Regions from separate parts of the Homo sapiens genome. Here region 1 is linked to region 2. A link means that fine-mapping ties the variant in region 2 to the expression of a gene that starts in the linked region. Tissue or cell type: spleen. Region 2 holds a variant in brackets; the other region holds the start of a gene. All regions are shown on one strand. Distances are between the middles of the regions.

The links. PIP is the estimated chance that this variant, and not a neighbour inherited with it, causes the effect.
Region 1: it holds the start of BTNL3, and the variant in region 2 is fine-mapped to the expression of BTNL3 in spleen (GTEx, PIP above 0.99).

What each region holds. Positions count from the first base shown.
Region 1 is chr5:180,984,325-180,992,514 of GRCh38, forward strand. BTNL3 (butyrophilin like 3) reads left to right here and starts at 4,522. Exons shown (of 8, transcript NM_197975.3): 1 at 4,522-4,753. The coding sequence starts at 4,705. It also overlaps the pseudogene ARPP19P1.
Region 2 is chr5:180,953,813-180,962,002 of GRCh38, forward strand. No RefSeq gene overlaps it. Among named protein-coding and RNA genes, the nearest start is that of BTNL3, 31 kb to the right of the region's middle. The variant T/G (reference allele first, on the strand shown) is at 3,655.

The sequences.
Region 1 (8,190 bases), 31 kb after region 2:
TTACTGCTCTTGTAGGAGCTCCTCTCACAAGTAGTTGTAATGCTGTACCATGATACTCAGGATCAGTAACTTCAGATGTTACTATCTTTCTCTTCATCTTTGACTTGCAGAGAGCCTCCTCTTTTTGGATCCAGGCATCTTTTCTGAATCCTGGTTCCATTAGTATACCTGCTCTCCTATGATCCCAAATCATAGTCAATGGTGCCTCCAACATAGCACCTTCAGTTAAAGGCTGCCTAGTGCTCTGAGGAAAGCTTACTGATTATCTTCCTGCTCTACTCACCCCGAAAGGCAGAAAAGCAACATAGTCACTCCTGTGCTCATTTGTAATTGTAAAGATCAGAGATATAGATATTTGTAATGAGAGCAAGTATATACTCATTATAGGATCAATTTAAGAAGTTTAAAATATCCCAAAGTAGAATTTCTATATCTAGTCTTCTGGGTTTTTTTCACGAATATTTGCAAGTGATTACGCTTAACTTCACACATGAAAGATTAATCTGAAAGGTCAGAGAGACCCTGTTATTCCTGACCACGATAGAACTGCTCCTGTGGTTTGGGACAAGTAACAAAACAACTGCTTGAGTTTTGTTTGTAAAATACACTATTAATATTTGACCTACCTCAAAACGTATTGAGGATCTGTGAAACACTAAGTGCCCAAAATAAAATATTGCTGATTGTCTTTTTATTAAAAGTAAATTTCCTCATTAAGCCAACCGGCCTTCTGTAAGTCACAGTGCTCAAGTCTCAGGGTTTGTCATTAGGAGAGGTCTGTCGTTAAGGATTTGTAGGTGTAATTGCCTAGCCTCCATTATTGGTGATTGCGATAGAGAGGTTTTACATTTTTCTGTTTTTCATCCTGCCCCAAAGCTCAGTTTATTGAAGACATTTGTAAGCTATTGGATCATCACTTGAATCAAGATTTTGACTAGTGAGCCCAATTGTCCCTTTCTTATTATTTCAAAGCTATAGTCTGAGAAATGGCTAATTTTAATAACTGTCCTATCATAAATTAATGTTGGAATAAACTGAAGTTGGAGATGAAGACTTCATGAAAACTAACTAAAGTCTGAAATAAATCACCTGTTTTATGTCCAATAGCTACTGCCTTTGATAGAACAGTTTTGAGGAACATTTCATTCTTGAAGGCAGCATCCGACATGGTTCTCAGCAAATTGGAATAGTAAGGATTGTTGGGTTGTTTCGATGAGTGGAAGCAGCGTTTGTAGCATAAAAGTTATTCAATAATCTTGTGCTGTTGACCTGAAAATGTGTCTTAACTATTCATCAAGGCAAGCCTGGTGAAGCCTTTACTTGTTACTACTTCAACAGTTGGAATTAGTTGCTCTTTTTACTTGATGAAGCAAAACTATACCTCTGAATATTTATGGATGCTTTTTACAAAATCAGGCTTGTGTTCTTAATCCGAATTAGTAAAGTTTTATGGAAGCTGAAATGTAATACAGTAGTCTCCCCTTATCTGCAAGAGATACAGTCCGAGACCCCTAGTAGATGCCTGAAACCTCAGATAGTACTAAACCCTGTATAGTCTATGTTTTTTCAATCTGACAACCAAGGCGGCTACTAAGCGACTAAGGGGCAGGTTGTATACAACCTGTGTGGATAAGCAGGACAAAGGGATGATTCACATCCCAGGCAGGACAGAGGAGGAGGATCATGAGATTTCATCACTACATGGCTTGTGATTTATTTTATTATTATTTTTTTTTTTTGAGAGGGAGTCTCGCTCTATCACCCAGCCTGGAGTAGTGGTGCGACCTTGGCTCACTGCAGCCTCTGCCTCCTGGGTTCAAGCAGTTCTTCTGCCTCAGCCTCCCAGGTAGCTGGGAATGCAGGCGCCCGCCAACATGCCCAGCTAATTTTTGTATTTTTAGTAGAGACAGGGTCTCACCATGTTGGCCAGGCTGGTCTCGAGCTCATGACCTTAGGTGATCCGCCCTCCTCGGCCTCCCAAGGTGCTGAGATTACAGGAATGAGCCACAGTGCACAACCAGCTTGTGATTTAAAACATGGTTTATTTCTGGAATTTTCCACATAATATGTTTGGACCAAGGTTGCCTCGGGTAACAAACTATGGAAAGTGAAATTGCAGATAAAGGGAGTTACTGCTGCTGTGCTCTAAAATTGGTGTTTGGGTGATCAGGAGTGGGTAGCCAATGGGAAGAGGTGATCAGGAGCAGGTAGCCAATGGGAAGAGGTGATCAGGAGCGGGTAGCCAATGGGAAGAGGTGATCAGGAGCGGGTAGCCAATGGGAAGAGCACTTCTGAGTGATCACCAAAGCAGTTTCTTTAGTGGTCTTTTCACATTCTCCAATGTTCAAGCATATTTTCCACTTTCCATTTTCTATTTCACCTCATTTTGCCTCATCATCTGCCATCCCTGCTTATTTCTTAAGCCTACTGATGGCACTCACTAAATTGTGTTTAGGGCTAATGAATCATTGTTCCTTAATATCCTTTTCAATATGCCACAATTTAGAATGCATTTAAAATTTTCTAAAACAATATCCTACTCTGAATATTAACTAATTTGAGCCACATTCCCATCTCTAACTCAGCACAAAGTGCCAGTCTTCCCCAATATCTCCTCTCAACTCCCCACCGCACCTTATAAAATTGGAATCAGAAATCTCACTCTGTCATTGCTCATCTTAGAATAAAAACACTGATTTTAATACTGTTTTACTAGTTTCAGCCTTCTAAGTACGTAGGCCTCTAGGTATTCTGCAGATCACTGGTGGTCTTGATAGCCATTCATATATGTTCGTATTATGTTATTTTTCAACTAAATCGCAATTGGAAAAAAACATCTTTAATATTATGCCCTTGGATCTGTTACTTCATTACTAATACTTGTGATGCAATAGGACACTTCACCTGTACTAAAAGGGCCAAGAGTAAATGTCTTGTTTTGTTGTTGTTGTTAAACATGTCTACAGAGTTGGCAGTTAATGCTGAATTTGTCAAATAGCTCTTCCAAAATTATACTTGTATTTAAAAAATAAATGGATCTACCTAATTTCTATTCATCTAATTTGCAGTTTTGTCTTATTAAAGTGGTATGTTTTTCAATGTATTTTTTTCTGAAGTTGATCTCTTTACATTTCAGCTATTACTGTAGGCAGAAAGAAATTGACTTGTAATCTTTGATTTTTTTGCATTTGTAATGGCTTTGTACTTAAGGTAGGATTACATGTTTACAGATTGTGGGGGAAAAAAAAAGAAAAGTGAAGGGAGAGAAAAGACAAGGCGAGTGGCCAGAGACCCTCAGGATCCAAGAGTTAACTCTGATTAACTCAGATGCTTTGTTCAGCCAATTTCAGACTTCTTTTTTCCTAATACAAGCACTTAAGGATAAGCCTTTCTGTAAGAACTGCCTTACATGCATCATAGTATTTTAAATGTAGTGTTTTCATTCTTCTTCTAGTCTAATTACCTTCAACTTCTATTATTAGTTCTCTTAGACCCATTAGTTATTTAAAATTGTGTTATTAACAATTTCTAAGTTCATGGGGTTTCCTCTTTTTAAATTGCTCTTTACCTTCGTTGTCCTTCGTGGTGCTCTCCGTGGAAACCTGCTTTCTGATCTAGTAAGTGCTTATTCTTTGTGCATGTCCCTAGACTTGAAATCACTGCATAATCCCTAACTGTGTGTGTCCTGGCTTAGTGCATCTAATGAATGACTGAATGAATGCATCTTTGCCTTTGCCTTACCCCCGGGCCTGAAACATCGTCTTGGTCCCCTTCTCAATACCTTGGATCCTTGGAGATCAAGGTCCTGGTTGTTCTGGCAAGTTCAACACAATCTGGCCTCATGATCAGAGTCCTGTCCCTGAACTCAAGACAAGGGAGGGATGGGCAGAATTACCTCATGCTGTGCCAGGAAATATGAGTCTCATGGGGCATGGCCTGTGTGCCTGGGCAAATTCACTGCCTCACTACCCTGTGCTGAGATGATCTCTTTTTTTTTTTTTTTTTTTTTTTTTTTCTGAGATAGAGCCTCACTCTGTCACCAGACTGGAGTGTAGTAGTGCAATCTGGGCTCACTGCAACCTCCCTCTTCCCGGTTCAAGCAATTCTCCTGCCTCAGCCGCCCAAGTAGGTGGGACTACAGGTGCGCACCACCATGCCTGGCTGATTTTTGTATTTTCAGTAGAGACGGGGTTTCATCATGTTGGCCAGGATGATCTCGATCTCTTGACCTCGTGATTCACCTGCCTTGGCTTCCCAAAGTGCTGGGATTACAGGCATGAGCCACTGCGCCCGTCCAATCTCTCTTTCAGGGACAGATGTTCACTCTCTCTTGCAGCTCTGCCTGCCAGACTAAGCCTGAAAATATCTCTGCATCTGGCATTCCTTTACCACCTATGTGGGGCACAACCCAGAACAAAGTCCCTCCAAGTGTACCCTACTCTCTTTCCATTATCATTTCTCTGGTCTGAGATAGATGTTTATGACCTGCCAATAAATGCAGTGACTCAAACTCCAGTGCCCATACTCCTCATTCATACAGCCATGTTTAGGGAGGCTCTAGGGAGAAATGCACAGTTTGACATCGTTCATGAAGAGCCTCTCCACGGCTCCTGCGCCTGAGACAGCTGGCCTGACCTCCAAATCATCCATCCACCCCTGCTGTCATCTGTTTTCATAGTGTGAGATCAACCCACAGGAATATCCATGGCTTTTGTGCTCATTTTGGTTCTCAGTTTCTACGAGCTGGTGTCAGGTAAGCCTTTCAGTTTGGACTGTTGTTTTTCTCCTTGTTGAATAATATTTTGAGTTCATTCATGACAATGATCTCAGCACAGTGAGATGCAGGAATCTTTGGTGCTTGCATTCTCCAGCTTCTCCTGGCCTCAGGCTGGAAACTACCAATGCCAGGAGCTGTGGGAAGCACAGGGCAGCAGGAATTGAGGAAGACTCCTTGGGCTGTTTCTCAAGGACTTGGGCACTATCACAGTAGCTCAGAATAATGGGAGCAGGCCCTGGGAGCAGGGAGGGAACACATTGAGAACGCCAAGGTAAACACATTGTTCTCCCCAGGTGGGCTGTGGGGCTTAGGCAGGGGAAGTCTCTAATAAAATCCCCAGGTTTTTGACTTGGGTGCCTGGGTGGAAGGTGGCACTGTTTAGGATGTTTGGAGAAAAAGACAATGTGTCCAGTTATGCACATGCTGAGTTAGAAACACCTGTAGTTATGGGGTAGAGCACCAGACCTTTAAGTGAGGAGTAAGTTGGAACCTGGCATAGTCTAGGCAGAAACCCACTCTTCTTTCTCCTTCTAGTAACCATCAAGACAAAGCCTGGTGTATAGGATATTCAGTAATCAAATAAATTTTGCAGGGAGAGATAGGGGCTGGAGTAGAACACTGGATTCTGGGTGGTCAGTGTTAAGCCACAAAAAGTTCATTTGACTGTGTTCACTTTCTGTCTGGAACAGTTCCATCCTGCTATTTGTCTACCTATGACTGTTTTGCTAAACAAAGCCAACAAAACAGAAATAAGGGGATCAAAATCCATGTGTGCTCAGAGGGCGTGGTGGCTCACACCTGTAATCCCAGCACTTTGGGAGGCTGAGGTGGGTGGATCACCTGAGGTCAGGAGTTTGAGACTAGCCTGGCCAACATGGTGAAACCCCATCTCTACTAAAAACACAAAAATTAGCCGGGCATGGTGGTGAGCGCCTGTAGTCCCAGCTACTCGGGAGGCTGAGGCACGAGAATCACTTAAACCCAGGAGGCGGAGGTTGCAGTGTGCCAAGATCGTGCCACTGCACTCCAACCTGGGTGACAGAGTGAGACTTTGTCTCAAAAAAACAAAAACAAAAAATCACAATCCACGTATGTTACTCACAAGACAGCCTCCGTTTAAGTACATTCTCACCCATTTTCTGACAAGCCTTTCTGTCTGCTTTCTGTTTCTGCATGAGGCAGCAGGGCATGCTGGAAATGACCTTAGAGGAAGTAACACTATTTTTAAAACTTTCCTTTTCTCTATGAGCTTGTGGCTAATAACTTCTATTAGCATCAATTTTTGCTTATGATGACATAGAGATAATAAGATCACATCTGTGACATTCCTGTGGCTGAAGGGCTGCTGTGTGGATTGCGTGAACTCGTGCATGTAGAGCGTCCAGCACGGAGCTCCGCTGGGGCACAGTATGTTGCGACAACAGACAGTGTCATTCCTTGCTTCTCCCCAGGGGAAGGAGTAAAGGGAGACGCTGTCGGCAAGACAAATGACAGCAGCAAGGCTGGCCGGAGAAACAGACATATACTAAAAACTGTTTGCCTGGCTTGAGAGTCTCACACAGCCTTGAAGGCAGCACTCACAGCAGCCCAGCTGACAGGCTGGGTCCCAAAAGCTGATCTAGAGCAAGGGCCTTTCTGCAGGTGGTTTGTTTAGCAGACTGTTCTCAGAAACAAAAGTGACAGGGTGCAGAGAGTGAAGCCAGCGGGAGGTAAGCCATAGAGGGTGCGCTAATGAGCAGGTTGCTGCGGTGGCAACTGGGACCCAGTCCCACTGGGTCCTTTGGAGGAACTGTATAGACGATGGCTCAGGATCTTCCCAACATCCACTGCTTCCTGTTCCCCACTGGGTGAGATGTGCCCCTCCGGGACTATTAAAATCGCAAACCTTCTTGGCCACCCTGTGCCTGGGCTGAGGAGGTTCCAAAGGTTGCAAGAAGCCATCAGCAGAGAGGCAGAGGCCAGGCTCCAGGGGCGGAGCTGTCAGCAGGCAGGCAAGTGCCCATCCCATTCCAGGGGGACTCAGGGTTGGGTGGTGAGGAGCAGGGCCTCAACATCTGCTACACCAGGTCAGCAGCTGGTCTGACACCAGGCTGCAAAGTCACGCCTCACTTAATAATGCTCTTAAAGATGCATGAGTGAAATACATTTCAGCAAGATTTATAAAATGTACTTAAACTTAGAAATAATTAGTGCTAAAATTAAAAATATCCACTTATCTGGAAATTCACACATGGGATCCACTTTGCCTCTGATGCACATGCAGATACCACACACAGATATATCCATATACCATAAATGGATACATGTGAATGAATCAAGAGACACTGCCAATCAAAGGGGGTGGGTACTTAGAAGGTGAAGGGAGTGGGCCTCCATCGTTTGTGGTCTCTCTAAGAAGAACTCTAATCATACAGAGTTGTAAGTGTGATTTGCACCAGAAAAATTACTTAGTTGACCACAAAACCAAGAAGCAAATGCAAAAAGAAAGTAGCGCTCACCATTCCTAGGCATAATCCCTGTCTGTGGAGCCCATTCTCCATGCTGGGCATGGGGAATCCTGTGCTGAGGGAAACACACACACTCTGTCCTCATGAAGCTAAAAGTCGTGCAGGGAAGGCTCGCAGAAAACAAACAGTTATGTCACTTGCAGCAAGATGAAGACAGTTTCAAGTGAAGATCAAGACAAAGCTGTACCAAGAAAATACAAACAAAACAAAACAGGTAAGCCATGTTGATAAAGCACTAGAGTGGGGGTGTCCAATCTTTTGCCTTCCCTGGGCCATATTGAAAGAAGAACTAACACTAACGATAACTAATGAATGAAAAAAAATCACAAAAAATCTTATAATGTTTTAAGAAAGTTTAAGAATTTGTGTTGGACCGTATTCAAAGCCGTCCTGAGTCTCATGCAGCCCACAGGCTGTGGCTTGGACAAACTTTTGCTAGACGAAGTACTATTCAAGCACGAAATAATAAAGTGGAAAAACATAAAATTATTACCTGGAGTAAAATGTAGGTGTCATGGAAAAGATATGTCACAACATCAGTGCACTAAAGGGCAAATCTCTGAAATAAAAACTACAAAATCTCCTCACTGTGTCACACCATGTCCTTCAGAATATGGCAGAAGTCTACTTAAAAAAAAGAAGCACAAATAAATGTGCTTCAGCGGAGAATATATATTCCTTTCTTGTATCCATAAAACATTTACAAGATGTAATCATCTATTTGAAGGAAATAAATTTTCCCAAATTCGATATTTTATGGCCACTTACTCCCCTCCTGGGTCATTAAAAAAGGTTTTTAGCATAGAAGATGCAAAGGGGGTGGTGTGAGTGTTCATTAAGCAGATGGGCAGAGAGGAGAGCACGTGGAGATAGATTCTCCTCCAGTCAGGGAGTCTGCATTTGGAA
Region 2 (8,190 bases):
ATGCATGTAAAAACTGCTAACATGTGAATCAGGCCTGGAGTCTAGTTAACATATTTATATCAATATCAATCTCCTGGTTTCAATATTGTGCCATAGCAAAGCTACATAAGATGTTGCCATTGCCTTAATTTTAAAAAATTGTTACCATTGGAGAAAGCTTGGTGAAGGGTACTCAAGACTCAACAATTTTTGCAATTTCCTGGGAGTTTATATGACTGTTTCAAAATAAAACAAAAATTTGTAAAGCAGCTTTAAAAAAACAACATTTATTTTAAAATGAAGTTGGGTTGTCGAAATAAATAAATGTGTGTGAAACAGAGTTTCAGAGATTCAACTGGTATCAGCTCACATCAAATGACAATGAAACAGAAGACTTAAAAAAATTTCTGTAGCTTTGAGTATCAGAACAACTATCTTCAACAAATCAAAATTGAATGATGCCATTAGCTGTGCCATCCAAAGTAAATAAGGACTAAAATCATGAATAAGAAAACTTGGAATAATAGGTGATAAAGCTAACATTAATGTAACATGGTAGTCCGACTAGAAACAATAAGTGCCAATATAACGAATTCCCCTGCAAAACATCCCCACCACCAAGTTAGTTTTCATTATAAAGATGATTAAAACAAACTAAAGCAGCCACAGACAGGAACACCGGGCCTGCCTCCTGGTGCAGCCGTCTGAGCTTCCCACCTTAGGACAGCAGTGGGAAGCAGGATGGTGGGGCCCAAGTCAGGAGCTAAGTCCCCCTACTGTGCCTGGGGAAGGATGCAAGGCTCCTGAGGCACCTCAGGAGAGGAAGCAGAGAGGGTTGTAGTCGATGAGCTGAGTCTGGAGGCCAGAGGGAGCCGAGGGTCTAGGAGCACGTGGTGAGTGGCAGAGATGCTGGTAGGCTCCCTGTGTGTTTTTCAGGGAGTAATAAATACAAGCCCAGAAACTACCAGGAGCCAGGCATTAGAGATATGAGGATGGACTGCTGTGAACTGTCTAGGAACAAAATAGCTGAAAGGGCACTGTGGAAGAAGGTGTCAGAAAATTAACTTCTGAAAGGAAAGGAGAGAGGGCTAGGAAGGCCTTGGGCAGCCAAGTTCATACAGAGACGTGTGTGTGTGCATGTGTGTGTGTGTGTGTGCGCGTGATGTAAGGAGAAAGGAGGAAAGAAGTGGGGGTAAAAGTGAAATTTTCTGAGCTATTCTGTGGTTTTTTTCTCTGACATGACCAAAATAGGAAGAAAAAGAAAATAAAACTAAAGAAAAAAACAAAAAAAAATTCACACACAAAAAAGGAGCAGCAATGTCACTCACACATGAAACCTGACTTCACATCCCAGATCTGCTTGGGATGCAGAAGTCCATTTGACTGTTAAAAATGTATTTTTATCAAAGTGATGCAAACTAATATTTAAAGGAGTTTTTAGGTCCGGTGCGGTGGCTCACATCTATAATCCTAGAACTTTGGGAGGCCAGGTGGGTGGACTGCTTGAGCCCAGGGGTTCGAGACCAGCCTGGGCAACATTGCAAAACCCTGTCTCTACAAAAAATACAAAAAATTAGCCAGGTGGGTGGTGCATGCCTGTGGACCCAGCTACTCGTGAGGCTGACAGGAGGATTGTTTGAGCCTGGGAGGTTGAGGCTGCAGTGAGCTGAGATCACGTCACTGCACTCCAGCCTGGGTGACAAAGAGAGACCCTGTCTCAAAACAAACTAACAAACAGAATCCCCCCCCACCACAAAAAACCAAACCAAAACCATGATTTTTAAAAGCATTGTAATAAAAAGCAATAGTACCCCAATGCCTTACTACTGTGTCCCTTTCCAACCCACCCCAGTGTTGTACCCACAGGGAAAACTTTATGGCTTCTCTTTTTGGTTGTTTTTCCTTATAGCTAAGTTACTTGTTTCTTCTTCTGGCATTTTATTTTATTTATTTATTTATTTAATTTTTTTTTTCGAGTCAGAGTCTCGCTCTGTCCCCCAAGCTGGAGTGCAGTGGTGCGATCTCGGCTCACTGCAACCTCCACCTCCCGGGTTCAAGTGATTCTCCTGTCTCAGCCTCCTGAGGAGCTGGGACTACAGGCACCCGCCACCACACCCAGCTAGGCTAATTTTTGTATTTTTCGTAGAGACAGGTTTTCACCATGTTGGCCAGGCTGGTCTCAAACTCCTGACCTCAGGTGATCTGCCCACCTCAGCCTCCCTAAAAGGGCTGGGATTACAGGCATGACCCACTGCGCTCAGCTATTTTGTTTTATTTTTAATTGACAAAAATTGTATATATCTGTCGTGTGTAAGATGTTGTATTGAAATATGTATGCAGTGTGGAATGGCTATAGACAGCTAATCAACATATGCATTACATCACATACTTATCTTTTTTGTGATGAGAACACATGAAATCTATTGTTTCAGTAATTTTCAAGAATACAATACATTGTTACTAACTATAGTCACCAGGTTGTATAATAGATCTCTTAAACGAATTCCTCCTAACTCAAACTTTTTACCTTTTGACCAACATTTCCCCAAACTTCCCACATACTCAGCCCCTGGAGACCACCATGCTATTTTTTACTTCTGTTAGTTCAACTTTTCTAGACTCTACATATACATAAGATCATGCAGTATTTCTTTTTCTGGGCCTGGCTTATTTATCTTAATATAATGTCCTCCAGGTTTATCTACGTTGTCACAAATAACAGGATTTTCTTCTTTTTTAAAGGTTCATACTACTTCATTGTGTATCTATATACATACATAGTGTCTACCCACACATAAATACACAAACACAATGTTGAATATTTTCTTCGGAGAAATGTTTATGTATATATACAATATTTTCTTTTTCTTTCCTTTTTTTTTTTTTTTTGAGACAGACTTTCACTCTTGTCGGCCAGGCTGGAGTACAATGGCGCGATCTCGGCTCACCGCAACCTCCGCCTCCTGAGTTCAAGCGATTCTCCTGCCTCAGCCTCCCAAGTAGCTGGGATAACAGGCATGGGCCACCACGCCTGGCTGATGCCTGTAATCCCAGCACTTTGGGAGGCCAAGGCAGGTGGATCATCTGAGGCCAGGAGTTCGAGACCAGCCTGGCCAACATGGTGAAACCCCATCTCTACTAAAAATACAATATTTTCTTTATCTCTTTATCTGTTTACGGGCGCCTGGGTTGATTCCATTTCTTGGCTGTTGTGGATAATGCTGCATGGCAGTGCAGATATCTCTTCAATATACCAATTTAAATTCCTTTGCATATACACCCAGGAGTAGGATTACTGAATCATAAGGTGGTCATATTTTTAATTTTGGGGGGAATCTCCATGCTGTTTTCGATAATGACTGTACTAATTTACATTCCCACCAACAGGGTGCAAGAACTCTCTTTTCTTTACATCCTTCACACCTATCTTTCATCACTTTGATAATCGCTATTCAAACAGGTGTGAGTCAACATCCCACTGTGATTTTAGTTTGCATTTCTCCCATGACTGGTGATGCTGAGCATTTTTTCATATATGTTTCAAACATTTAAATGGTTTCTTTAGAGAAATGTCTATTCCAGTTCTTTGCCCATTTTTTAATCGTCTTTTTTTTTTTTTTTTGCTGTTTAGTCAAATTCTTATATATTCTGGTCAGAAATTCCCTATTGGATGTC[T/G]AGTTTGCGAATATTTTCTCCCATTGTGTGGGCTGTCTTTTCACTCTGTTGTTTCCTTTGTTATGCAGAAACTTTTTGAATTGATATAATCTCATTTATCTATTTTTGCTTTTGTTGCCTGTGCTTTTGAGGTTTTACACAAACAAACCATTGCCCAGATCAATGTCCTGAAGCATTTCCCCAGTATTTTCTTCTAGTAATTTTATAGTTCCAGGTCTTATATTTAAGTTTTTGATCCATTTTAATTTGATTTTTTATATGGTGAGAGATGGGGCATCCAGTTCATTCTTCTGCATATGGATATCTATTTTTCCCAGCACTATTTATTGAAGAGACTGTCCTTTCCCCAACATATGTTCTTGCTGCCTTTGTTGAAAGTGAGTTGACTGTAAATGTATGGATTTGTTTTGGGATTCTCTATTTTGTTCTGTTGGTCTGTGTGCCTATTTTTATGTCACTACCACGCTGTTTGGTTACCAAAGCTTTGCAGTAAATTTGGAAGTCAGGTAGTGTGATATCTCCAGCTTTGTTCTTTTTGCTTAGGATTGCTTTGGCTATGTGAGGTCTTTTGTAGTTCCATACAAATTTTAGGACTCTTTTTCTATTTCTGTGAAGAATGTCACTGGCATTTTGATATGGATTATATTGAGTCTATAGATTATTTTTGGTAGTATGAATATTTTAACAATAATAATTCTTCCAATCCATAAACATTAGAAATCTTTCCATTTGTTTGTGTCCTCAAACTTCTTTTATCAGTTTTTTATAGTTTTCATTTTAGAACTTTTTCACTTCTTTGGCTAAATTTATTCCTTGCTATTTAAATTTTTGGTAGCTATTGCAAATGAGATTGCTTTCTTGATTTCTCTTCCAGATTGTTCACTATCGGCATCTATAAATGCTACTGATGTTTGTATGTTGATTTTGTATCTTAAAACTTTACTCAATTCATTTATCAGTGCCAAGAGTTTTTTTGCTGGAGTGTTTCAGTTTTTCTAATTATAAGATTATGTCATTTGCAAACAAGAACGATTTAACTTCTTCCTTTCCAATTTGAATGGACTTTATTTCTTTCCCTCGCCTAATTGCTCTTGCTAGGGCTTCCAGTACTATGCTGAATAAAAGTATTGAAAGTGGACACCTCTGTCTTCTTCTAGCTCTTAGAAGAAAGGCTTTCAGGTTTTTCTCCTAATAAGTATGATGTTAGCTGTGGATTTGTCATACATGGTCTTTATTGTGTTGAGGTATTTTCTTTGTATATCCAGTTTCATCATGAAGGCACGTTGAATCATGTAAAATGCTACTTCTGAGTCTATTGAGATGATCATATGGTTTTTGTCCTTCATTCTGTTCATGTGGTGTATCCCATTTATTGATTTGTGTGTATTAATCCATCCTTGCATCCCTGGGATAAATTCCACTTGATCATGGTGTGTTATCTTTTTGCTGTGTTGTTGGAATTGGTTTGCTAGTATTTTTGCATCTGTGTTCATTCAAGATATTGGCTTGTAGTTTTCTTTTTTTGTTGTGTCTTTGTCTAGCTTTGGTATGAGGGCAATGCTGGCCACATAGAATGACTTAGGGAGAGATCCTGCCTCTACAACTTTTGCAAATAGTTTGAGTAGAAATGGTATTAATTCTTCTTTTAAAGTTTGGTAGAATTTGTCAGTAAAGCCATCAGTGATGTAACCTGTCCCCAAGTCTCCCAGCAATGGGTACCAGCACCAGCTCTGATGAGGGTGGCAGGGGAGTAACGTAGACTCTGAGATTCCTTTGTTATAAATAGGCTTAGTATATTGGCTTTCTCAAATGTTGGTTACGGTAGTAATGAACTGTTCACCTGGACAGACTAGGACCCACTGGTTAGTCAGGACACTGTGGGAAATGGTGATAGCTGAGGTCACACACAAGTGTTCTTCTTCCTGGGTGCTCTGTTACTCCTCCTGGAGCTGCTGTAATGGACTGACTGTGTCAGTTGGCCTCTAGCTTGGAGGTGTTGCTTGGAAAAGAGCACCAGCTGCGGTAGTAGCAGTGGGATTTATACTTGCCTTATGTTACCCAGGGGGTACTGTGGTGTCTCAGGCAATGGGAGGGGCCATAAAATTCCCAAAAGTTTCCGTCCTTTGTGTTAAGCTACCAGGGTAGGTGGAGGGGCAAAACCAGGTGGAGGCTGGGTCAGGCGGGTCCACGTGCTGGCTCTCCACATGCAAGGCAAACAATGGCTCTTGTGGGGGTTGAGGGTGGTTCTCTTGCCACTAGGACAATGTTCCAGGGAGGGGTGCAGCTGCCTCTATTGCACAGAAGAGTTTACACAGGGAGTGGGGAGTAGCAGGTGGCATAAGCCCCACACAGTCCCACGTACTTGGCAAGGCAAACCTCACGCCCAGAGTGTTCCACTAGCAGCGGCTAGCTAAGTTCCAGGCAGTTTGTGCTCAGAACTCAAAACTGCTCCAGGCCATAAGCCTTTCTGGCAGAGACAGCAACTGCGGCATTTAGGCCATGCCCTTCCCAGTCTGCCAGCAAAGCCAGGGTGCCCAGCTTCTGCACTCATGGATGCAGCACGCTTTTCACTCACCTCCCACTTCTGGCAAAGAAAGTTCATCCCCACTCGAGAGAATATCATGAATTTTAGTTAGAAGCTTTTCTTAACCTGTGACTGCTGCCTGAATAAGCTGGCCGACTTCTGTGAGGTCCCCTGGGAGGCAGGATCAGGAATGGCTTCCTTCGTCCACACTGGAGGCTGGGAATGCATGCAAGGCTCTTGTGCTGGTGCTCCTAATTTTTTGTTCCCCACTACTCCCTAAACCAGTTTCAGGGCTGGATAGAATTAAGGCCTTCCCCTCCGGCCTGTATTGTCAGGTTCCCACGTCGCAGTGTATATCTTGGGGGCAGTTTATCCCCCCTCACACTTTGAGGACTTACAGTTTTCTGCCTGACTCATTGTGTAGGCTGCAGCCTGCCACTTCTTTCAAAGAGTTTGTGGTTTCTTTCAGTTTTCCTGTTAAGTTCTTGCCTGCTTACTAGAAAAAAATTCACACTGTGTATGTCTAGACACTATTTTGTCTTTCCAAGTAGGAGAGGCATGCTAACAATGCCTCTAATCCACCATCTTGGGAAAAAACCTTTTAATTGTGGGATTTAATATGTTTACTTTCAAGGCTGTTATTGATAACTACTTCTTATTATTTTGTTAATTGCCTTTTAATTGTTTTGTATATCCTTGTTCCTTTCTTATTCTCTTATTGCTTATCTTTGCAATTTGATGGCTTTCTATAGTGATGACATTTGATTCCTCTCTTTTTCTCATTTGTGTATCTGCTTCTTCCAGTGAGTTTCATACTTTTGTGTGTTTTCGTGATGGGAGATATCATCCTTTCACTTCTAGATGCAGGAAGTGCATTTAAGCATTTCTCAAAGGCCTGTCTAGTGATAATGAATTTGCTCAGATTTTGTTTTTCTGGGAAAGACTTTATTCCTCTTTCATTTCTGAAGGATAACTTTGCTAGGTATCGTATTTTTGCCTGACAGTTTTTTCTTTTTCTTTCAGGGCTTTGAATATATTATCCCATTCTCTCTTGGCCTAGAGGTTTTTGCTGAGAAATATGCTGTTAATCTGATGGAGATTCATGTGACTTGATGCTTTCCTCTTGACATTTTTACAATTCTTTCTTTGTCTTTGACTTTTGACAATTTGAGTATAATGTGCCTCCGAGAAGACATTTTGGGTTGTGTCTATTTGGGATTCTTTGATCTTCCCGCATATGAATGTCTTCATCTCTTCGAAGACATGAGAACTTTTCAGCTATTATCTTTAAATCGGTTTTCTATGCCTTTTGCCATGTTTGTACCTTCTGGAACTCCCAACATTTGAGGTTTTGTTCACTTGATTGTGTCCCATATGTCATATAGGATTTCTTCACTCTTTGATTTTTTTTCTGAGTTATTTCATTTTTTTTCTTGAAAGATTAACTGTTTAACTATAAAGAAATAACTAAAAATTAAAAATAGCTTATAAACTTTATTTATATAATTACTGAAGGGAACAGAGTAACTGTTTGTGGTGGTGGACCCAGGAAGGCGGCTCTCAAGTTCTGGGGAGTGCGTATTTCCATTCTCTATGTTCTCAGCACAGACTGTCTGATGTGCAGGAATGCCTGCTTCCAGGTTTAGAGTGCTCCATGGGTTCAGATTTACTGCACATCTCGGTCCAGCTAATGCTCTGATGCTGCAGACTTCTGGGTGGATATGAGAGGATGCTAGTGGGACCCCAGGGATGTGGAGATGCAGGGGCTATTAAGCCATGGTGCAGAATGTTGTCTTGTATTGGGTCTGTTCTCAAAATGATGTCATGCTGCAGTTGATTGGGTCCTGGGGATGTAATATTGCATGAACTCCTTCCGTGGAACAGTGCAGTCACATGGACCCCAGGCAAATCCCTATACTACTCAGGGCCTTTGAGGGCTGAGGGGCTTTCCTGTAGCATGTACTACAGGACTCTGGCATGTGGACTGCTGAGGATCTCTTACTTGCCTTTTC